7 linked regions of the Homo sapiens genome follow. The protein of the gene in region 1 purifies or fractionates together with the protein of each later gene. This does not show direct contact. Each region holds a gene or a part of one and is shown in the gene's direction. Other genes may lie near its edges. The genes, in order: SLC25A22, NUDT21, WDTC1, NCOA5, CASP3, PRRC2A and CTNNA1.

Region 1 (2,653 bases):
CGGCTTCAGTCTGGGGTGGTGGGTGAGGGGCTGCGTGAGAGAGGGAGGCTGGGGGAGGATTACTCTTCGGGTGGCCCCACCCTCACTCATTCCCATTCCCTCATCCTTCTAGGACAGAAGTGGCGGTTGCTGACGCCTGGAAATTCCCCTGAAGGTGGAGCACCACCCAACCCCCCTGGGTCCCACCCTCCCTCAAGGCCTCCTCCACCTCCACCTCCACCCCGCCTGGCCTGGCGTCCACCTCTGCGGCTCCTACCTGGGTGCAATCGAGTTAAATGGCTGATAAGCAGATCAGGTCAGACTCCAGTCCTGGCTGCGTGCCTCACCCCCACCCTGACCCATGGTCAAGGAAGCCGGTCCTGACACCCCTGTCCACACAGCCTGCCAGCCAAGCTCATCAATGGCGGCATCGCCGGGCTGATCGGTGTCACCTGCGTGTTTCCCATCGACCTGGCCAAGACCAGGCTGCAGAACCAGCAGAACGGCCAGCGCGTGTACACGAGCATGTGAGTGTGCCGGGCGGTCGCGGGGAGTGGGCCCAGCATGTGGCAGCAGGAGAGGTGGGGGCTCTGCTCCTGTGCCCCCCACCCTGTTTGACAGAAGGGAAACGGGAGGCAGGCGGGCCTAGGGGAGATCCCACGTGGGTCAGGACTGGGGTCGGGGCTGGGCTGAGGACTTGGCCTCTTCTATCAGCCCTAGACAGTCCAGGGACCCTGGCCTCCGGCTGGCCCCAGCTGGCCCTGGCTCACCCTGTCCCCTTGGCCACAGGTCCGACTGCCTCATCAAGACCGTCCGCTCCGAGGGCTACTTCGGCATGTACCGGGGTGAGGTTTGGCTCGGCTGGGCTCGATATGGGCAGGCCTGGGTAGCGCCCGCGAGTCGTGGCAGGGAGCGGTGGGGGAGGCAGGGCAGGGCGGCCAGCCTGGGCCTGGTGTGTGAGCGTGGACGTGTTTGTGGGGGCTGTGCCTGTGCAGGGGGGACTGGATCTCTGGTGAGTGGTAGTTCTCAGCCTCTCCCGTGGCAGCTCCCCACCCCCACTTAGTGCCTGGTGCGTGGGATGCCATGGTACATCTGTCTCTTCTCTGGTGGCCACAGCTGCCTCTGCCTTCTGGGCCAGGCTGGACCCCGTTTGTGGCTGGGGATGGGAGGGAGTAAGGGGCATTACCGCAAAGCAGCTTAGGACACAATCCAGAGCCTAGATTTGGCAGAAGCTCTCCAGCCCTGAGCCTTCGGCACTGAGATGGGGGCTCTCCACAGCCTCCCCCGAGCTCTGGCCCAGTCCAGACCACACACTCCTGTGACCTCTGGCCCCAGCCCCCTGCCAGCACAAGCACCATCTGTCCTCCAGGGAGGGAGAGGTATCCTAGGGAGGCCTCAGGGGCTCCGGGGCAGTCCTCATGCCCTGAGCAGCAAGATGCTGCCCAGAATCAGAGACAGATGGAGCTGCAGTGGGCATGGGAGAGCCTGAGCCTGAGGTGCTGCCCCATCCCTGCCTGGCCCCGCCCCACCTGGCACACACCAGGCCCAAATGTGGGTGAGAGAACAGATGGTGGCCAGGAGTGACTGGGACAGGGTTTTGCCAGCCAGGAGGCAAGTCCTGGCCAAGCGCCTCCCCACTCAGGCCACCGAGCATGTCCCCCCAGCTGACCCCCTGCCCCACAGGAGCTGCTGTGAACTTGACCCTCGTCACCCCCGAGAAGGCCATCAAGCTGGCAGCCAACGACTTCTTCCGACATCAGCTCTCTAAGGACGGGTGAGGGTTCTGCCTGGCAGACACTCGAGGGGTCTTTGGCTTCAGATAAAGGATGGGTCCACCCTGCCAGCTGGGTCCCACCTGGGGGCTCTGCCTGTCTTCAGCCCCTTGCTTGGGGCTTCTTTGACCTCGTGGGGCACCCTCCCTCCTTTCCCCTGACCAGGGGAGCAAAGCAGATGTCAAATCAGTGGGGCTCTGGCTTGGTAGCCCTTGGCCTGAGGGCACTGACCAGCTCCCCCATCACTGGAGGGGGACTGCAAGGGCAGCCCCTTTTTGGGGCACTTGACCCCCAATTTCCCATTTTCCTTTGTCGCAGACAGCCCCACTGCCCTCCCCAGGCCCCTGCCTGTGGGGCCGTCTGTCCATCGGTCTCCTCCCTGCCTGCTGCTGCAGTGGCGGAGGCTGGGGGCTGTACCCCCACAGGCCTGCATCTGCCTCCACGGCTCCCACCATCCTCTGCGCCCAGGCATGGTGGGCAGCCCCGAGGGTGGCAGGTAGACCTGTCTCTTCCCACTTACTGCGGCCCCGCCCCTACCACAGGCAGAAGCTGACCCTGCTTAAAGAGATGCTGGCGGGCTGTGGGGCTGGCACCTGCCAGGTGATCGTGACCACGCCCATGGAGATGCTGAAGATCCAGCTGCAGGATGCAGGGCGCATTGGTGAGGGCGGGGGGAGGGGGAGGAGAGGGCAGAGGTGCGGGAAGAGGTGAGGGCGAGGGGAGGGTGGGGACGCAGGGAGGGCCAGAGCGTGTCCCCTGCCCAGTTCGCACAGAAGAGGAGACAGCAGCCTCTTTGTCCCCAGCCGCCCAGAGGAAGATCCTGGCTGCCCAGGGCCAGCTCTCGGCCCAGGGGGGTGCCCAGCCCTCAGTGGAGGCTCCAGCTGCCCCTCGGCCCACGGCCA
Region 2 (3,500 bases), on another chromosome or scaffold:
CCTGGGTGGTGGAGGTTGCAGTGAGCCAAGATTGCGGCACTGCACTCCAGCCTGGGCAACAGAGCGAGACTCTGTCTCAAAAAAATAAAATAAAATAAAATGAAAATCAAGAAACTGTCATAAAAGAATATTTTGGCTGGGCATGGTGGCTCACACCTGTAATCCCAGTGCTTTGTGGGGCTGAGGCCGGAAGATTGCTTGAGGCCAGGAGTTGTAGTGAGCCATGATTGCGTCGCTGTGCTCCAGCCTGAGTGACAGAGCAAGACCCTATCTCTTAAAAAATGTAGTTTTGAGGCCCGGTGCAGTGGCTCATGCCTGTAAGCCCAGCACTTTGGGAGAGTGAGGTGGGCAGATCATCTGAGGTCAGGAGTTCGAGACCAGCCTGACCAACAGGGTGAAACCCCATCTCTACTAAAAAGACAAAAAATTAGCTGGGCATGGTAGCATGTGCCTGTAATCCCACCTACTCCGGAGGCTGAGACAGGAGAATCACTTGAACCTGGGAGGTGGAGGTTGCAGTGAGCCGATATTGCGCCATTGCACTCCAGCCTGGGCAATGAGCAAAACTCCGTCTCAAAAAAAAATTTTTTTTTTGAAAAATATGACTTTACATTGAAGAAACGTGATAAACAGTACCTCAGCCCATTAGTGATAAGCCATATTGATATAGCATGTACCTTTGATATGACGTGATGAGAATGGCCCTTTTACCTCTGTAGTTTTCTTCCCAAAAGCTCATAACTTCAATTTAATTGAGGGATGTTTTACAAAATACTTGACCAGTATTCCTCAAAGCTATCAAGATCATCAAACACAAGGAAGGTATGAAAAGCTGTCACAATGTAGAGGAACCTCGGAAGAAATGAAGATTAAGTGTAATATGGTATCTTAGATGGGATCCTGGGACTGAAAAATGAAAAAGGACATTAGGTTAAAGACTATGGATATCTGAATAATATATGGACTTCAGTTAATAATCTTGTCTTGGTATTGGTTGATTAGTTTGACAAATGTGCTTTACTAGTGTGAGATGTTAACAGTCGGGGAAACTGTGTGGGGTATATGAGAAGTCTCTGAACAAGTTTTGCAAGTTTTCTGTAAATCTAAAACTATCCTAAAATAAACCGTTTATTTAAGACCAAGAAGAATGCTTTTAAAAATAGAAGAAAACATGAGGGGAAAAACAACCAAGAGTTGAAAGTTACAGCCAGTGGGAATGGGTGAAGCAGGACAGAGAACTGCAGTTTCTCACCATGAACATTGTAGAACTATTTTTGGCCACTTAAAATATGTAGAGTATGACTTTGGTTAAAATAAGTTTAGTGTTCTGCTATACAAATTAATAAAAATGAAAGCTGAATTTTGAACACAATTTTTATGTTGATACTAGCTTGCCAGTTTTGAACTAATATTGTATGTCTTGGGCAGAGTGACATCTATATTAACAAATCATAGAAAATCTGTATGGAAGGCATATTATCCCTATGTTTCAATTAGGAGCACTGCTAAGAATTTTCTGTTCACTGAAGAAGGGGATTTGTGAGTACATATATTTAGTTGTTTACTGGCTTATTTCTTTTTGACAGATACTGGGTCGTCAGGATGGAGTTTTGCAAGACTGGGTCATTGACGATTGCATTGGTAACTGGTGGAGACCAAATTTTGAACCTCCTCAGGTCAGTGTTCAGTTACATTTGCTGGGCATTTTGGAAGCAGAAAGCTCGTTTAATTCTAGCCACTTTAAAAAAGATTAAAGTAGAATTTGACTTGAAATTTTCTTTTCTTCCCTCCTTAATTTAAATTACAAAATTAAGCCAAGCACTTCTTATTTTAAAGGAAAATGTAAAACAAATACAAGGCCGGGCGAGGTGGCTCATGCCTGTAATCCCAGCACTTCAGGAGGCCGAGGCGGGTGGATCACCTGTTGAGGTCAGGAGTTTGAGACCAGCCTGGCCAACATGGTGAAAGCTCGTCTCTACTAAAAAATGTAAAAATCAGCTGGGTTTGATGGTACAAGCCTGTAATCCCAGCTACTCCGGAGGCTGAGGCAGGAGAATTGCTTGAACCTGGGAGGCAGAAGTTGCAGTGAACCGAGATTGTGCCATTGCACTCCAGCCTGGACAACAGTGAGACTCCTTCTCAAAAAATAAATAAATAAATAGAACAAATACAAAAGAAGAGAGAATGGTAAAAGTGAATGAATTGCGCTACCCGTCGTCTGCCTTTAACAGTTAGCACATCACAACCCCTCATTCCACCGCTTCATTCTCCTACCCTCATCTTGGATTATTTTGAAGTGTATCCTAGCTATTCATTTCAATTGTAAATATTTCAGTGTGAATCATAAAAATAAGGATCTCTTTAAAAAGATAACTATAGTACTGTTATTATCATACTAAAAATAAACAATTCCATATTATTGTCAAATATATAGTCACTGTTCGCGTATCCTGATTATTTCTATTTTCTTTTTATAATTTGTTTGGATTAGGATAGTCTCTAAAGTCTCTTTTACACACTTGGCACCTTTTTTTTTTCCTTGTGTTTTATTTGTTAATGAAAACAGGCTAATGTTTCCATTTCGATTGCATTCCCCTGTTGTTGTTGAATATGTAGCTGTTTCCCCTGTGTGTCTTGCAAATTGATAGTTAGATCTAGAAATTGTATTCAGGCTCAGTTAATTTGGGGAGGGGTAACAAGGCTTGTCATAGGCGGTATATAATCTATACCTGCATAACAAATTACCTCAAAATTTAGCAGCCTTTAGGCCTCTGGGAGTTGCTTAGGGTGGTTCTGGCTTAGGCTCTGTCATGAAGTTACAGTCAAGTTGTCAGCTGGGACTGCATCATAAGGTGGAACTGGGGTTAAAGTATCTGATCCCGAGCTTACACGTGTGTGTGTTAGCAAACTTCTTAGTTTCATCTGGGCTGTTAGACTAAAGCTTTGCTTCAGGTGTTGCTGGCTGTTGTCTCAAGGTCTCCCTCAGTTCCTTGCCATGAGAACATCTCTAAAAGGACAACTCTCAGGCAGCTGGCTTACCCAAGGCTGTGTGATCCAAGAGATAGTGAGAGACAGAGTGCTAGAGGAGTGCCCAAGTAGGAAGCCTCAGTCTGTGATAACCTAATCTTGGCAGTGGCATACCATCACTTCTGCTGTGTGCTATTGGTCACACAAGCCAACCCTGGTACGCTATAGGAGGGACTACACAAAGCAGTGAATACCAGGAGACAGGAATCATTGGGGGTCATCTTAAGGCAGTCTATCACAATTGGTATAGTGTACTTCCATCAGGAATTTAAAAATATTTGGTTGTTTCTTGTTGTAATGTTAGCAGCTCATTGATGATCATTTCCTGGTCTATGAATTCATAAGGGTTGTGATCCTCATATAAAAAGAAACTTATGTATTACTGAAGTGTGTGGTTTGTGTAGAAAAAAAAAATATGCTGCTATTCCTTTACTTAACATTTTTCAGAAGAATGACTTAATTCCTTAGCATCC
Region 3 (3,500 bases), on another chromosome or scaffold:
AGTGCAGTGGCGTGATCATGGCTCACTGCAGCCTTGACTTCCTGGGCTCAGGCGATTCTCCCACCTCAGCCTCCTGAATACCTGGGACTACAGACACGCTCCACCATGCTTGGCTAATTTTTCTATTTTTTTTGTAGAGATGGGGTTTCTCTGTGTTGCCCAGGCAGGTCTCAAACTCCTGGGCTCAAGTGATCCTCCCACCTCGGCCTCCCACAGTGCTATGATTGCTGGTGTGAGCTACCACACCTGGCCTTATTTTATTTTTACTTATTGGTTTACTTTTTTGTCTGTATCCTCACTAAATAGTAAAAGTAAACTCTCTTAGAGCAACTCCATGTCTGTCTTGTTCTTGGTTGTATCCCTAGAGCCCAGCACAGCGCCTGGCACATAGAGCCGCTTGATACATTTCTCTTGAACAGTTGGTCAGTGGCTATATACCTGGGAGGGGGCAAGCCACCCGGAAATGGTAAAATGGACTGTCCCCTTTTCCAGTGCCCTGCATTGTTACACATTTGCCTCTACTTCCCTTCATTCTAAAATGGTGTCGTTGCCCTTCTTTAACTCCTTTCTTCAGCTGTGACCTTAGAACTTCTTTCTTATCTCCCCAGCCTGCTTTAATCTGTCTCCCTTGAGTTCCTGTAGGACTTTGTGCCCTCTTTCCTTTTACAGATGAGGAATATCTAAGTCATATATAAATTATAACATAGTCAAGAGCAAGGCAGTGAAGTCAGACAGACCTGGGGTCAAATCCTAGCAATCGCACTCAGTATTTGACTGGGGTAAGTCACTGCATCCCTGAACCTCAGAAGACAGAATGCACTTTGTCAGTGGCAGGTCCAACTCTGTGTAGCACTTTTTGACCTTGGCTGACCAGATTTTGCCAGGGCCAGCTGGTAGAAGCGGAGCGTCTAGCGCATTGGGTAGGATCCTAAGTGTTTAGGCATAGGCACAGTCAGAGAAGGTGTCCTAGCAGAAGGTGAACATAAGCTGGGCCTTCCAGAACAGACAGGATTTGGATGAGCAAGGAAAAGCAGAGTGTATTCCCCAGCTTGAGCAGAGTTTGCAAAGGCAGAAATAAACATGGCATGTGCAGGATAAAGAATTCTGTAGTTATAATTGACCCACATTTAGAAAACTGAGGAATAAGGTTGGAGAGAAATGTGAAATTGAGTCTTGAAAACCAGACTGAGGAGTTTGGTAAAAGTAAACTTGTGCTAAAAGTATTGAGGAATCTCTGCAATTTTTTTGAGCAGGAGAGTGATGTAAAATAATATTTTAGGAAGAGCAGCCTGGTGAAGATGGCTTAGAAAGACAAGGTGAACAGCAAAGAGGTGATAACAGATGTCTAGGCAAGAGGGGAGAGCATATAGGTGATGTCCCCCCTACCCACCACTCTCTGAGGATACCTGTGTATTGGCAGCACAAAGTTTCCCCGTCTGGAGCGGTGGGAGTTTGCTGCTGTTTGGTAGACTTTTTGGCATTACCTTTACTGCGTGGATGAGACTTTTAGGCTTGCCTTGGCCCATGGTATATCTAGATAGCTCTTAGATGATCTGCAGAGTCTCTTTTCTGTCACCTCCATACCTTGTTTCATGAAAGAAACTAGATTAGGTAGGAACGGAGCAGTGTTTAAGATGCAGTCTCAGAAAGCTTCCCCAGCTCTGCACTTACTAGCAGTGTCATCTCAGTCAGGTTATTCAACATCTTTGAACTTCAGTATTCTAATGATACCTAGGGATGGCGTTAGGAATTAATTAAGGGGCAATACTGGACATAAAGCACATTTTCACTAAGTGTTGGTAATCAGTAGTAGTATAATAGTAGCAATAATACTAACATCTGTAGAATATGTACAATAGTATCCACCTTAGGAGTTCTAGTAGAATAGAATGTGTGAGAAGCCTACTACAGGTACCTGGCACACTGTGGACACTCAAGAAATGGGAGTTGTTTTTGACATTCTTATTTAGAAACAGGTCCAAAGTCCCTCCCAATCCTCTTGCATAACAAGAACTTATCTTTTCCCCTGCCTTCCTCTCAAGGACCCCAAGCCCCAATTCCCTAACTCTGTCCTCTCTCACAGCCAGTATGACCTTCGAGAGAACAGCAAACACTCGGAGGTGCTGATTGACCTGACAGAGTACTGTGGCCAGCTGGTGGAGGCCAAGTGCCTCACTGTCAACCCCCAGGACAACAACTGCCTGGCAGTTGGGGCCAGCGGGCCCTTCGTGAGGCTCTATGACATCCGCATGATCCATAACCACAGGTATGAATAGTTCAGCCTCCTGTCTCCTGTGAGTAAGTCCCCAGAGAACCTACTGCCCCTTTCCCTCACTGCCATTGCCATGCCCTCTTCTTCTATCACAGCTCACTGCAGCCTCAACCTCCCAGGCTCAAGCGATCCTCCCATCTCAGCCTCTCAAGTAGCTGAGACTACAGTCACACGCCACCTCGCTTGGCTAATTTTTTAATTTTTTTATAGGGGCGGGGTCTTTCCTTGTTGCCCAGGCTGGTCTCAAACTCGAGCTAAAGCAATCTTTCCACCTCGACCTCCCAAAGTGCTGGGACTACAAGCATGAGCCACTGTGCCTGGCCCCTTCTTTTATTTATTTATTTATTGTTTTACTTTTTTTTTTTTTTTTTTTTTTGAGACAGAGTCTTGCTCTGTCACCCGTGTTGGAGCGCAGTGGCACAATCTCAGCTCACTGCAACCTCTGCCTCCCGGGTTCAAGCTGTTGTCCTGCCGAGTAGCTGGGATTACAGGCACCTGCCACCACACCTGGCTAATTTTTGTATTATTAGTAGAGACGGGGTTTCACCATGTTGACCAGGCTAGTCTTGAACTCCTGACCTCAGGTGATCTGCCCGCCTCGGCCTCCCAAAGTGTTGGGATTACAGACGTCAGCCACCACACCCAGCCTGGCCCCTTCTTCTTTATGAAATGGACTTTCTTCAATTTTGTGATTTTTTAAAAAACTTAATCCTCGCTTATGTTGGAAAATATGAAAAGTATAAATTAGGCCGGGCGTGGTGGCTCACGCCTGTAATCCCAGCACTTTGGGAGGCCGAGGCAGGCGGATCACGAGGTCAGGAGATCGAGACCATCCTGGCTAACACGGTGAAACCCCGTCTCTACTAAAAATACAAAAAATTAGCCGGGCGTGGTGGCGGGTGCCTGTAGTCCCAGCTACTGGGGAGGCTGAGGCAGGAGAATGGCGTCAACCTGGGAGGCGGAGCTTGCAGTGAGCAGAGATCCTGCCACTGCACTCCAGCCTGGGTGGCAGAGTGAGACTCAGTCTCAATTAAAAAAAAAAAAAAAAAAGTATAAATTACCCATAATCTCTTACATAAATTCCTTATGATTTCCTTATATTTATTTATTCTTATAATTTCTTATATAAATCTCTTATAGTGTCTTTCTTAAAGAAATCACTGTATATAATATTTCCTGCTAGTTCTTATAACACTCAGAACCCCCACAGCACTCTCAGACCTGAGTT
Region 4 (3,500 bases), on another chromosome or scaffold:
CTGATCATACTTTATCTCTTAAGATATACCAATAGGGCAGACATAAATTGCAAAGAGTAGGTGAGACGGGCAAGTAATTAATCTGGAAGGGGCAAATCATTTAACTGAGGGTGAACACTGGGTACCTCCTTTGGGTGCATGCTTCCAGTCAAAGCCTTGAGATAACTCCAAATGTATCAATAGTTGACAACAACAAACTGCCTTTATTTGGCAGCCCTAATCATTTTGTATGCCCCCAGCCACAGGGGGTGCATCATTCACAGGGGAAAAAAAACACTACCTATGGCAAATATTTCCTAAAGTTATACCTCTACATTTTTAGCGCTTTCTACGTTTAATAAGAATATTGGTATAAGCATACTGGCAAGACCTTTATAACACCTTGTTTTGCTGGACTTAACGTAGGTATCTTTGGGAGTTTTACAGGATTATCACCTCTTCAGATGTTTCAGTAAACCACAGTTCTGCTGGCTTTGCTCTCTATTCAATAATATGACTCCCTGATGACTCCAGCTGTCAGTGTGTAATTCTGACAATATTGGCCCAGCCAAGCACAGAACTCTGCATGAGGAATCTCTGCTCTGGATCACATTTCAGCCTGAATTCTTATCATCTAACTCTTGAGGGCCACTTCATTGAACTCCTGTGAGTACCTTGCATAGTTACCATGCAAGTTGTCAAGCATCGATACTAAGCATTAGTCCTTCTTCAAAGACAGGATCATGATTCCAGTTGTGCCTTAGATATCTCAGTTACCATCTTCAGCTCAACACCTTGACAGTCCAGATCTTGTAGCATATCTTTATGCAGATGTGGCCTCTAGGTACAAGAAGTAAGACTGTACTTCTGAATGACTTAAAGAAGAACAAATAGAATTAACTTGTCTGCATCCAACGCTCTGCAGAGGATTTTTCCCCATATATTTGTGAAAGATGTTAAACCTGGTATCTCTTTGGTGAAAGTCATTGGGTATCGGCTCATCAGAAATAACCTGGCTGTAGACAAGTTTCTTATATGACCTGAAATGCTTTCTGCTTATCCACAGGGCCCTAATGCTTTTGATTATTGCTTGCTCCCTGGTTGTGAGACAGCCCTTGCTCTAGGTGGGCCACAAAGAAATTCCAGGTTGTGATTACCTCTGCAGTAACACTTGAAGAAGTCATCAGTTCTCAGCAGCTGCCACCTCTACCAATAAGAAAGTTCTGTTTGTGCTGGAGAAGGTTGTCAGTGCTTCCTAAGGAAAAGCATGGACATGTGTAAAATTTGGGTCTGTGAGGTGTGATATCTCATTGCACGTCCATATCCTACCTCCACCTAATGGCAATATTCTGGACAAGTCTGTTGTCTCCATTTCTAACAGTAGCATGAAGCCCTCCTGGTGGAGGATCAACATCATACAGCAGCCAGCCATTTAGATGATGATATTTGTGGACAGTATATCTGTGACAGAAGTTTGAAGAGCTAATGAAGGATTTTTCAGGGTCAGAAAGAGGCTGGCCCTCCCAAGGAAGACATTCCGGTGAACAGAAAGGAAGAAAGGAGATGCTGACCTTTGCAGAAAAGAAAGAAAAAGACAGGGGTCTTCCTCCCTGACCGTCTGTAGAACCAAAGCCAAAGAAAACCATCTTGGATGTGAAGTTTCAGTCTCTTGCCAAAGAGAAATTCAAAGTCCATCACAGTTTTCCAAGATGATCATCTATCAGTTCTTACTCTGTAGGCTGTCACATGCCTGGTGCTCTGCACACCCCTTTAGTCCTCAGGAAGAGACACATTCTACCAGAAGCTCATCACTTGCCACCAGAGCCATTGTTTTCCCCTTCACCCCTTTCGCCCTTACGTCTCAAATGTTTCCCAGCAGTGTGACTATATTCCCCTCAAGGCAAAGAGTATTTGCCTTTTTCCCCCTCCTGAATAGATGAGGAATTTACAGCAGAATTTTAGTTGTGTTTGCCACCTGCCTTCAGTTTGTGGACTCCAGTGCTGAAATTTAACCACTGTTCAGTTTCTTTTTATCCTCTAGTGATGTAGTACCTGAGGGTATGCTGCATTTGGTTCCTTTAGTAAAACACCTCTGGTGCTGTGGGATGATATTGTTAACCTTATTATGCTCCAGAAACCTGATTCTAACCCACTTATCATCTGAGGTCCAGCGTCTCCCACAGGAAGCTTTGTCTTCTTGCACTTTGATTCGTGCATACTACTGCCCTTTTGTTAGCTGTAGTCTTGTTTTGAAAAATATGTTGGGGCCAGCAGCAGGAGCCCTTTTGTTCTGAGGAGTTCTTTGTTTGGGTCCTAAAGCAACCCTAAAGGGTTTTTTGTTTTGTTTTCGTCTCCAGAAGAACAGCAGTCTACCATAGTGTTTATCTTTTGGAGAAAGGAAAAAAGGCTTTGCCTTTCCTTTTGAGAAAATTATTATCTTCTTTGTCCCTACTTCCACCATGCCTTTGGTTCTTTTTCCTTTTGTGAATATCACCTCTTCTACATTTTTACCCTGAAGGCACTTGAGAGGGAATTAGTAGTTTTGTTGCACATGGACTTCAAATTATTTGAGGGAAAGGGTGGGGCTTGCCCTCTCAGACTGGAAGATTGAACCCAGACTTTGCGAATCTAGAGTTTTAGTCAACTTGCAGGGATGGACTTTGACAGGTAAGTAAGGTTTTTCAGTGGATTCAAAAGAATGAGGACCAATCATAACATAACACTTATAATACTCCGAAGGTGGTAAATAACATGCTATGACATGCCCCACCCCGATTTCCACCAGCCCAAGGCTTTGTGTGTGGTCTGTGGTCTGTCAGGATCATGATATCTCAGCCCTGATTGCCAAGAACACTTGAAATTGGATTCCACCTCTAATGACTACTTCTAACTGCTCCCCAAGGCAGGTTTATCTGCCGATCATTAATCCAAAAATACTTTGCAGTTGTCCTTTCTCTTTGGATCTTGAGTGTTTGCCCACATTACATGCTACATCAGATGTTACATGTTAGGAAGATTATATGATGTAATAAGGAAGGTTGAAGTAAGAATCTTGGTTAGTCTTTACTTTATTCTAATAAGAAAAATAATGCTTAGCTATTCTCATTTAAAGTCCCTGGTCTATGATATGTTTGCTCTCACAAGTCAGGAATGCTGGTGAACCTTAGAATATATAACAAATATTTTTCATGGAAGCAAAATTGGCATTTAAATTGTTTTTGCTGTGCCCGTGTAGCTGAGGTGAGGTTTTCCACAAGCTGATGACATCATGATGAATACCTAACGTGTGTAACCATGGTAGACGACAAAAGTATGAGCAAAACATGCTGCCTGCTCTTGAGAGGCTTACAGTTTAGTAGAATAATTCAATTCATTAAACATTTACTGAACTCCTATGGTGTATCCTAGAGCTACAAAGCCTTCAAGAGAACTTCTTATTTGGTAGGGAAGCCACGTAAACAATTACAGAACAGTGTGGTAAGTGCGGTTATAGAAGTTTGTACTGGAGCAAGATTCATTCA
Region 5 (2,626 bases), on another chromosome or scaffold:
ACTTTTGCATCTTACCTTCTGCGTGTTTGCTCTTCTTGCCTATTGAAAGGGGAGTCCAGAAAGTAAAACTTTCAATAATTCAGTGTTCGTGAAGCTGGTCCCCGGCCAGCTTTGCTGAAAGCAGGGGGTGTACGCATAGCACACATTCGTCCTTCAGCATCATTTCTTCTGAAACCAAAGGTGTCTTTTTTTTTTTATTTGTATGACTAATAAGACTTATGTAAGTTTATGCTTATTTTTGCCTTTATGACTACATAATAATTTATAGAATCAACTAAAATCAGCTATCCATGGTATTTTGCTTGTATTTTGCCTTTTAGGTTATTATTCTTGGCGAAATTCAAAGGATGGCTCCTGGTTCATCCAGTCGCTTTGTGCCATGCTGAAACAGTATGCCGACAAGCTTGAATTTATGCACATTCTTACCCGGGTTAACCGAAAGGTGGCAACAGAATTTGAGTCCTTTTCCTTTGACGCTACTTTTCATGCAAAGAAACAGATTCCATGTATTGTTTCCATGCTCACAAAAGAACTCTATTTTTATCACTAAAGAAATGGTTGGTTGGTGGTTTTTTTTAGTTTGTATGCCAAGTGAGAAGATGGTATATTTGGTACTGTATTTCCCTCTCATTTTGACCTACTCTCATGCTGCAGAGGGTACTTTAAGACATACTCCTTCCATCAAATAGAACCACTATGAAGCTACCTCAAACTTCCAGTCAGGTAGTTGCAATTGAATTAAATTAGGAATAAATAAAAATGGATACTGGTGCAGTCATTATGAGAGGCAATGATTGTTAATTTACAGCTTTCATGATTAGCAAGTTACAGTGATGCTGTGCTATGAATTTTCAAGTAATTGTGAAAAAGTTAAACATTGAAGTAATGAATTTTTATGATATTCCCCCCACTTAAGACTGTGTATTCTAGTTTTGTCAAACTGTAGAAATGATGATGTGGAAGAACTTAGGCATCTGTGGGCATGGTCAAAGGCTCAAACCTTTATTTTAGAATTGATATACACGGATGACTTAACTGCATTTTTAGACCATTTATCTGGGATTATGGTTTTGTGATGTTTGTCCTGAACACTTTTGTTGTAAAAAAATAATAATAATGTTTAATATTGAGAAAGAAACTAATATTTTATGTGAGAGAAAGTGTGAGCAAACTAACTTGACTTTTAAGGCTAAAACTTAACATTCATAGAGGGGTGGAGTTTTAACTGTAAGGTGCTACAATGCCCCTGGATCTACCAGCATAAATATCTTCTGATTTGTCCCTATGCATATCAGTTGAGCTTCATATACCAGCAATATATCTGAAGAGCTATTATATAAAAACCCCAAACTGTTGATTATTAGCCAGGTAATGTGAATAAATTCTATAGGAACATATGAAAATACAACTTAAATAATAAACAGTGGAATATAAGGAAAGCAATAAATGAATGGGCTGAGCTGCCTGTAACTTGAGAGTAGATGGTTTGAGCCTGAGCAGAGACATGACTCAGCCTGTTCCATGAAGGCAGAGCCATGGACCACGCAGGAAGGGCCTACAGCCCATTTCTCCATACGCACTGGTATGTGTGGATGATGCTGCCAGGGCGCCATCGCCAAGTAAGAAAGTGAAGCAAATCAGAAACTTGTGAAGTGGAAATGTTCTAAAGGTGGTGAGGCAATAAAAATCATAGTACTCTTTGTAGCAAAATTCTTAAGTATGTTATTTTCTGTTGAAGTTTACAATCAAAGGAAAATAGTAATGTTTTATACTGTTTACTGAAAGAAAAAGACCTATGAGCACATAGGACTCTAGACGGCATCCAGCCGGAGGCCAGAGCTGAGCCCTCAGCCCGGGAGGCAGGCTCCAGGCCTCAGCAGGTGCGGAGCCGTCACTGCACCAAGTCTCACTGGCTGTCAGTATGACATTTCACGGGAGATTTCTTGTTGCTCAAAAAATGAGCTCGCATTTGTCAATGACAGTTTCTTTTTTCTTACTAGACCTGTAACTTTTGTAAATACACATAGCATGTAATGGTATCTTAAAGTGTGTTTCTATGTGACAATTTTGTACAAATTTGTTATTTTCCATTTTTATTTCAAAATATACATTCAAACTTAAAATTACCAATGTCTTTGAGTTTTTTGTTGCTGTTGTTTTTGATGTTGTGCCACTAATTGGAAGTTAAAATGTTTTTAATCAGAAGCTTGATTTGGAAGAGTCAAAGAGGAAGCACCAGAACCCTAGCCTAGTTTTTTGAGGTGGTGGCAGTTAGATCAGGGCAGACAGATCGCTTATGCTTCCCAAGTCCTCGCAGAAGTTCCTGACCCTGAAATGACCACAATGCCAGGAAGATACTTTGTTTGCATAGATCTCAGGCCTTAAATATGACCATATGTGTGAATTTGAAACTTTTTCCACAAGATAAGTGTCTAATGGGAAGAACAACCTAAGAGGATATACAACAAGCCGTTGATGTTTACTGATGGCCTCCTCTGGGCGCTGGGATTTTGACAGAGGAATTTGCTGTCTTTTTACTTCATATGCTTAGAAAAGGAATATAGGAAAGTGGGGTTGTGGGTGGTTTTAAATTTCTTCCAATATTTCTGTAATGAAAATATATTAC
Region 6 (3,500 bases), on another chromosome or scaffold:
AGGGATTGAGAGGGTCAGCTGTGGGAAATTGGTGTCAGCTGAGTAATTGAAGCGGTTGTGATATAGAGGAAGGGGGGTGCTAAAAATGGGCTGTGTGAAGTGCCAGGCTGCAGAACATCCTGGGAAGCTTTTAAATATCTTTGGTAATAGGGGAGTCTGGGTAAGAAGTGAGAAACTGGGATGCTAATGAGGAAAGAAGAAAAAGGAGCCCTGGGTGTTTGGGTTTCGGAAGGAGAGAGGGAACAGAAAAATAAAAAGACTAGGGTGGCTAGATAGCTGGATCTGTTAGTATGCATCAGTAGTCCAAGCTACTCAGCAGGCTGAAGCAGAAGGATCACTTGAGCCCAAGTTCAAGACCAGCCTGGGCAACATAGCAAGACGTGGTCTCAAAGAAGACCAGGATAATGAGTTTGTCACCACCCAGAGAGATCAACCCCAAAGCCTGGGTCGTTGCATCCTGCAAGTAGCGACAGTTGATTTGTTGTAAAAGAGATGATAGAAAGCATAGTAACTGATTCCCCTGGCCCTGCTGGGTCTTGCCAATTGACAGGATCGTGGGGGTCCTCCCTGCAAGCCCCCAGCACCTGAAGATGAGGATGAGGCATGGCGGCAGCGACGAAAGCAGTCGTCATCTGAGATTTCCCTGGCAGTGGAGCGGGCCCGGCGACGGCGAGAAGAAGAGGAGCGGCGCATGCAAGAAGAGCGCCGGGCAGCCTGTGCTGAGAAGCTCAAGCGACTCGATGAAAAGTTTGGGGCACCTGACAAGCGGCTCAAAGCAGAGCCTGCTGCCCCACCTGCTGCCCCTTCTACCCCAGCTCCACCACCTGCAGTCCCTAAAGAACTCCCTGCACCTCCAGCTCCACCTCCAGCATCAGCCCCAACACCAGAGACAGAACCTGAAGAGCCAGCACAGGCCCCTCCTGCCCAATCTACTCCTACTCCAGGTGTGGCTGCGGCTCCCACTCTGGTGAGTGGTGGTGGCAGTACCAGTAGCACCAGCAGTGGCAGCTTCGAAGCCAGCCCAGGTATGGAGATGGGGATAGGTACTACCAGATGTCAGATCACTGCTTCAAGGTGCTTAAAGGTGCAGGGTGGTAAGGCTGGGGATAAATGAAGTAGAAGGCAGTTGTTTTGGTTTATTGGACTATCAGTGATAGTGTTCTATCATTTGTATATCTGAAGGAGGGAAGGTTTTGTCTGGAATCTTAGGTTGTAGTCTAATACCATTTCTTGGCAGAGTACTGTAGCTCACGCCTATAATCCCAACACTTAGGGAGGCTTGGGGTGGAGGATCGCTTGAGCCTAGGGAGTTTGAGACCAGCCTGGGCAACAAAGCAAGACCCTGTCGGCCAGGCATGGTGGCTCACACTTGTAATCCCAGCACTCTGGGAGGCCGAGGCGGGCAGAACATGAGGTCAGGAGTTCAAGATCAGCCTGGCCAACATAGTGAAACCCGTCTCTACTAAAAATACAAAAATTAGCCAAGTGTGGTGGCATGTGCTTGTAGTCCCAGCTGCTTGGGAGGCTGAGGTAGTAGAATCGCTTTAACCCGGGAGGCAGAGATTTCTGTGAGCCAAGACCATGCCATTGCACTCCAGCCTGGGTGACAGAGCAAGACTCTGTCTCAAAAAAAAATCCTGTCTCACAAGAAATACATAAATAAAAATGAAAACTATTTCCTATAGGCCAAGACTGAAGAAAGTACTGTTGTTCTAATGGTTTCATAGAAAGTTAATGCCACCACCATAGGCTCATGAGAGGCCATGAAGTGCTTTAATGGGTCTTAAATGGGAGGGGCTTCAATAGAATAGATGTTGAATAGAATATTTTAGTCTTAAGGGAGCTAGAGATGAGACGTGAGATTCCTGGGGTGTTCATGGAGTGTCTATTGTTGGACTAGATCACTCTGTTGTGTTTTTTCCGATGCAGTGGAACCACAACTGCCCTCAAAAGAGGGTCCTGAACCACCAGAAGAGGTTCCTCCTCCTACCACACCCCCAGTTCCAAAGGTGGAACCCAAGGGTGATGGGATTGGTCCCACCCGCCAGCCCCCTAGTCAGGGCTTGGGCTACCCCAAATATCAGAAGTCGTTGCCTCCTCGTTTCCAGCGGCAGCAGCAGGTGAAATCAAGTTGTTTACCCTCTAAGGGCTGCTTTTCTTCCTGGCTTCGGTCCCTAATTCTCTTCATAAGTTACCTTCTGGGTCCCTTTGCTTCTTTGTCCAGTTGTCTCCATTGTCACGCCAATTTCCCCTAGTCCAAGTTTTTTCTTTGCTGATTCCTTTGTCCATGTGTGCTTTGAGCCTCTCTCATCTTGTCTTTCCTCCTTTCCTAGGAGCAGCTCCTGAAGCAGCAGCAGCAGCACCAGTGGCAGCAGCATCAACAGGGCTCTGCCCCTCCTACCCCAGTGCCCCCATCACCACCACAGCCTGTGACCCTGGGGGCTGTGCCAGCTCCACAGGCTCCACCCCCGCCCCCCAAGGCCCTGTACCCAGGTGCTCTGGGCCGGCCCCCACCCATGCCCCCAATGAACTTTGATCCCCGATGGATGATGATTCCTCCTTATGTGGACCCCCGGCTCCTCCAGGGTCGTCCCCCTCTAGACTTCTACCCTCCTGGTGTGCATCCCTCTGGTAAGGGGGCATGGGAGGAGTGAGAAACAGGAAAGTCCCCTCAGTCTTAGGCATTGGATATTAGGGTCTTACTGTGACTCTGGTACGATAGGTTTTGCCCATCATAGTGATGAGGGAAGGGCATATGCTTGGCACTGCTGAGATAGCTCTGTTGCAAAAATGGGCTTAGTTAAGAAATAAGCAGTGGTTGGCCAGGCATTGTGGCTCACGCCTGTAATCCCAGCACTTAGGGAGGCCGAGGTGGGCAGATCAACTGAGTTCAGGAGTTCGAGACCACCATGGCTAACGTGGTAAAACCCCATTTCTACTAAAAATACAAAAAAGTAGCCGGCGTGGTGGCGCTCGCCTGTAGTCCCAGCTACTCGGGAGACTGAGGCAGGAGAAACGCTTGAACCCAGGAGGTGGAGGTTGTAGTGAGCCGAGATTGTGCCATCGCACTCCAGCTTAGGCAACGAGCGAAACTCCGTCTCAAAAATGAATGAATGAATAGCACAACTCCATCTCAAAAATGAATGAATGAATGAAAGAAGCAGTGGTCCTTCATTTGCCAGGATTTATTTGGGGTGGGTTGATTCTCTTGTAGGGAATCTGAGTGGATAACCTTGTTATATAAGAGCAGGCAAGGCCCGGACCTACTGGGAACAAGAGATGGAAGAGCTGACTTGACCGCGAGGGGAGATGCTTTTTGGGCTGGAGGGCTTGTGACATGAATAGGATTATTTTTCTTTTTCTTTGGTTTCTTCAGGCCTAGTTCCCCGAGAGCGTTCAGACAGTGGGGGCTCAAGCTCAGAGCCATTTGACCGTCATGCACCTGCTATGTTACGGGAACGGGGCACTCCACCGGTGGATCCAAAGTTGGCCTGGGTAGG
Region 7 (3,500 bases), on another chromosome or scaffold:
GCAGAGACGCTCCTCACTTCCCAGACGGGGTGGCGGCCGGGCAGAGGCTGCAATCTCGGCACTTTGGGAGGCCAAGGCAGGCGGCTGGGAGGTGGAGGTTGTAGCGAGCCGAGATCACGCCACTGCACTCCAGCCTGGGCACCATTGAGCACTGAGTGAACCAGACTCCGTCTGCAATCCCGGCACCTCTGGAGGCCGAGGCTGGCGGATCACTCGCGGTTAGGAGCTGGAGACCAGCCCGGCTAACACAGTGAAACCCCGTCTCCACCAAAAAAATACAAAAACCAGTCAGGCATGGCGGTGCGCGCCTGCAATCACAGGCACTCGGCAGGCTGAGGCAGGAGAATCAGGCAGGGAGGCTGCAGCGAGCTGAGATGGCAGCAGTACAGTCCAGCTTCAGCTCGGCATCAGTGGGAGACCGTGGAAAGAGAGGGAGAGGGAGACCGTGGGGAGAGGGAGAGGGAGAGGAGGGAGAGGGAGAGGAGGGAGAGGGGGAGGAGGGAGAGGGGGAGGAGGGAGAGGGGGAGGAGGGAGAGGGGGAGGGGAAATGTTTCTTAATCTGTCTTTTTTTTTTTTTTTTTTTTTTTAAACAGAGTCTTGCTCTGTGGCCCAGGCAGGAGTGCAGTGGCACCATCTCCACTCACTGCAAGTTCTGCTCCCCCAGGTTCATGCCATTCTCCTGCCTCAGCCTCCCGAGTAGCTGGGACTACAGGCGACCGCCACCACGCCCGGCTAATTTTTTGGTATTTTTAGTAGAGACGGGGTTTCACAGTGTTGACCAGGATGGTTTCGATCTCCTGAACTCGTGATCCACCCGCCTTGGCCTCCCAAAGTGCTGGGATTACAGACGTGAGCCTCCGCGCCCGGCTGCTTTGACATTTTTCAAGACTACAGCCAGTTATTTTGTAGATCGTCTCACGCTTTGAATTTGATGTTGCCTCATGACTAGTTGAGGTTATGTAATTTTCAGGCGAAATAACACAGAGGTGATGTTGTATCCTTCTCAGTGCATCGTGTTAGGAGATACGTGATGTGGGTTTGTGTCCTTATTAGGGACAGTAATTTTGATTACTTGGTTAAGGTGGCATCTCAGGTTTCTGGACTGTGAAGTTACTATTTCCCCCATCTGTCATAAATAAATAATCTGTTGGGAGTTACTATGACACTAGATCACGCTACTGAGAAACTGAATGCTAATCTACTTGGTTAGCATTCTTTGATTCTTGCCTGAGGCAATTAATATTATGGTTCCTGAATGCTGATTTTTCTAAATACATTGTTCTTTCTACATTTATTAGTTTGTTTCCTATTGTTTGGAAGAACTTTTCCTTCTTTATTCATATTAGCATGGACTCATGCATTAGTCAATGGATCATACTTTGTTCTATCTAATCTCCACTAAAGCTCTCTGAAGAAGGCAGTGGTTGGTAGTCTTTTATGAGGGATCTAGTTCAAAGTTACGTTTTTTTTTTGAGATGGAATCTTGCTCTGTTGCCTAGGCTGGAGTGCAGTGGCATGATCTCGGCTCATTGCAACCTCTGCCTCCCAGGTTCCAGCGATTCTCCTGGCTCAGCCTCATGAGTAGCTGCGATCACAAGCAACCGCCACTACGCCTGGCTAATTTTTGTATTTTTAGTAGAGAGAGGGTTTCACCACATTGGCCAGGCTGGTCTCGAACTCCTGACCTCAGGTGATCCACCCACTTTGGCCTCCCTAAGTGCTGGAATTACAAGCATGAACCACCATGCCTGGCCAGTTTTCACCCAGTAGTTTTGACATTCATTGCTAATCCTTGGCTGGATCAGTTTTTACCAGTGGGGGTTGCAAGATGGTCATTTTCTAATTCTATTCTAGATTCATGGTAAAGAAATTCCCTCCCCATACCCTTTCTTTTGAGGATCCCTATGGTCTTAAGGATATTTATTTAATTATTTAGTTACAGACAGTTACAGTCATTATTCTCTTTGATAGTTGTCCTAAATTTGGCTGATGGGAGCCCTTGCTTCCTGTGTCTTTTGATATGATCTTGTTAGTCTTGTCCCCTTTCCGCACAATACAGTGCTTCAGACCTGGAACTTTGGTTTCTATTAATGGGAAATGGTCCGTTTTTTAAAAAAAAAATAAGTAGAAATGGGATCTCTCTGTGTGGCCCAGGCTGGTCTCAAACTCCTGGGCTTAAGTGATCCTCCTGCCTTGGCCTTCCAAAGTGCTGGTATCACAGGCATGAACCACCATGCAAATGGTATTTAATAGAAATAAATACTTGGGCACTGATAACACTGGTTTTTTTTTGTTTTTGTTTTTTTTTTGAGACAAGAGCTTGCTCTGTTGCCCAGGCTGGAGTGCAGTGGTGCGATCTTGGCTCACTGCAACCTCCACCTCCCAGGTTCAAGTGGTTTTCCTGCCTCAGCCTCCTGAGCAGCTGGGATTACGGGCGTGTACCACCACACTGGACTAATTTTTGTAGTTTTAATAGAGACGGGGTTTCACTATGTTGGCCAGGCTGGTTGTTTTGTTTTTTAATTTGCCAACATTGTTTTTAAGAGTAACATTGTAGCCCGTTGTGTCATTGTTACATAATTTATTGAGTGATCTGTTGTTTGAAATTTAGGTAATTTATAACTTTTAATGTTTATATAAAGCAGTGTTGTGAACATCATTGTATCCCAGTTTTTACATGTTCCTTAACTTTAGAATAAGATTTTAGCAGTAGATTTTCTGGGTCATACAAATGTACTTTTTAAAGATTTTATTTTATTTATTTATTTTATTTTTTATTTTTTTGAGACGGAGTCTTGCTCTTTCGCCCAGGCCGGACTGCAGTGGCGCTATCTCTGCTACTGCAAGCTCCGTCTCTGGGGTTCACGCCATTTTCCTGCCTCAGCCTCCCGAGTAGCTGGGACTACAGGTGCCCGCCACTGCGCCTGGCTAATTTTTTTTTTGTATTTTTAGTAGAGACTGGGTTTCACCGTGTTAGGCAGGATGGTCTCAATCTCCTGACCTCATGATCTGCCCGCCTCAGCCTCCCAAAGTGCTGGGATTACAGGCGTGAGCCACTGCGCCTGGCCAAGATTTTATTTTTTTAATTTTTATTATTATTATTATTTTTTAAGATGGAGTTTTTTTCTTGTTGCCCAGGCTGGAGTGCAATGGCACAATCTCGGCTCACTGCAGCCTCTGCCTCCCGGGTTCAAGCGATTCTTCTGCCTCAGCCTCCCGAGTAGCTGGGATTACAGGCGTGCACCACCAGCCTGGCTAATTTTGTATTTTTAGTAGAGACAGGGTTTATCCTTGTTGGTCAGGCTGGTGTCGAACTCCCGACCTCAGGTGATCTGCCCGCCTTGGCTTCCCAAAGTGCTGGGATTACAGGAGTGAGCCACCACGCCCAGCCTTTAAGCTTTTAAATGTCTACCAGCAGTTTGTTGTCTAGAAAGTTTATATTAGTGTTTACCTCAGCTTCATGCCTTTTCTTTTCTTTTTTTCTTTAATAATTGAAGGCA

What was found.
Region 2: the proteins of SLC25A22 (region 1) and NUDT21 purify together in Homo sapiens (affinity purification with mass spectrometry; one large-scale study listed by BioGRID and IntAct). This does not show direct contact.
Region 3: the proteins of SLC25A22 (region 1) and WDTC1 purify together in Homo sapiens (affinity purification with mass spectrometry; 3 studies listed by BioGRID and IntAct, with this or other methods). This does not show direct contact.
Region 4: the proteins of SLC25A22 (region 1) and NCOA5 purify together in Homo sapiens (affinity purification with mass spectrometry; one large-scale study listed by BioGRID and IntAct). This does not show direct contact.
Region 5: the proteins of SLC25A22 (region 1) and CASP3 purify together in Homo sapiens (co-immunoprecipitation; one large-scale study listed by IntAct). This does not show direct contact.
Region 6: the proteins of SLC25A22 (region 1) and PRRC2A purify together in Homo sapiens (affinity purification with mass spectrometry; one large-scale study listed by BioGRID and IntAct). This does not show direct contact.
Region 7: the proteins of SLC25A22 (region 1) and CTNNA1 purify together in Homo sapiens (co-immunoprecipitation; one large-scale study listed by IntAct). This does not show direct contact.

The regions. Positions count from the first base shown.
Region 1 is NC_000011.10:792,629-795,281, reverse strand, and holds part of SLC25A22 (mitochondrial glutamate carrier 1), read left to right. Parts: exon of another isoform or gene 1-18; intron 19-112; 5' UTR 113-275; coding exon 276-295; intron 296-380; coding exon 381-506; intron 507-693; coding exon of another isoform or gene 694-768; coding exon 769-824; exon of another isoform or gene 825-829; intron 830-1,662; coding exon 1,663-1,753; intron 1,754-2,293; coding exon 2,294-2,412; intron 2,413-2,515; coding exon of another isoform or gene 2,516-2,554; coding exon 2,555-2,653. UniProt on the Homo sapiens protein: Mitochondrial glutamate/H(+) symporter. Responsible for the transport of glutamate from the cytosol into the mitochondrial matrix with the concomitant import of a proton. Plays a role in the control of glucose-stimulated insulin secretion.
Region 2 is NC_000016.10:56,437,833-56,441,332, reverse strand, and holds part of NUDT21 (cleavage and polyadenylation specificity factor subunit 5), read left to right. Parts: intron 1-1,586; coding exon 1,587-1,676; intron 1,677-3,500. UniProt on the Homo sapiens protein: Component of the cleavage factor Im (CFIm) complex that functions as an activator of the pre-mRNA 3'-end cleavage and polyadenylation processing required for the maturation of pre-mRNA into functional mRNAs.
Region 3 is NC_000001.11:27,290,132-27,293,631, forward strand, and holds part of WDTC1 (WD and tetratricopeptide repeats protein 1), read left to right. Parts: intron 1-2,083; coding exon 2,084-2,266; intron 2,267-3,500. UniProt on the Homo sapiens protein: May function as a substrate receptor for CUL4-DDB1 E3 ubiquitin-protein ligase complex.
Region 4 is NC_000020.11:46,072,963-46,076,462, reverse strand, and holds part of NCOA5 (nuclear receptor coactivator 5), read left to right. Parts: intron 1-3,500. UniProt on the Homo sapiens protein: Nuclear receptor coregulator that can have both coactivator and corepressor functions.
Region 5 is NC_000004.12:184,627,196-184,629,821, reverse strand, and holds the end of CASP3 (caspase-3 isoform a preproprotein), read left to right. Parts: intron 1-320; coding exon 321-550; 3' UTR 551-2,126; downstream 2,127-2,626. UniProt on the Homo sapiens protein: Thiol protease that acts as a major effector caspase involved in the execution phase of apoptosis. Following cleavage and activation by initiator caspases (CASP8, CASP9 and/or CASP10), mediates execution of apoptosis by catalyzing cleavage of many proteins.
Region 6 is NC_000006.12:31,627,215-31,630,714, forward strand, and holds part of PRRC2A (protein PRRC2A), read left to right. Parts: intron 1-550; coding exon 551-1,025; intron 1,026-1,929; coding exon 1,930-2,120; intron 2,121-2,333; coding exon 2,334-2,631; intron 2,632-3,376; coding exon 3,377-3,500. UniProt on the Homo sapiens protein: May play a role in the regulation of pre-mRNA splicing.
Region 7 is NC_000005.10:138,777,425-138,780,924, forward strand, and holds part of CTNNA1 (catenin alpha-1), read left to right. Parts: intron 1-3,500. UniProt on the Homo sapiens protein: Associates with the cytoplasmic domain of a variety of cadherins. The association of catenins to cadherins produces a complex which is linked to the actin filament network, and which seems to be of primary importance for cadherins cell-adhesion properties.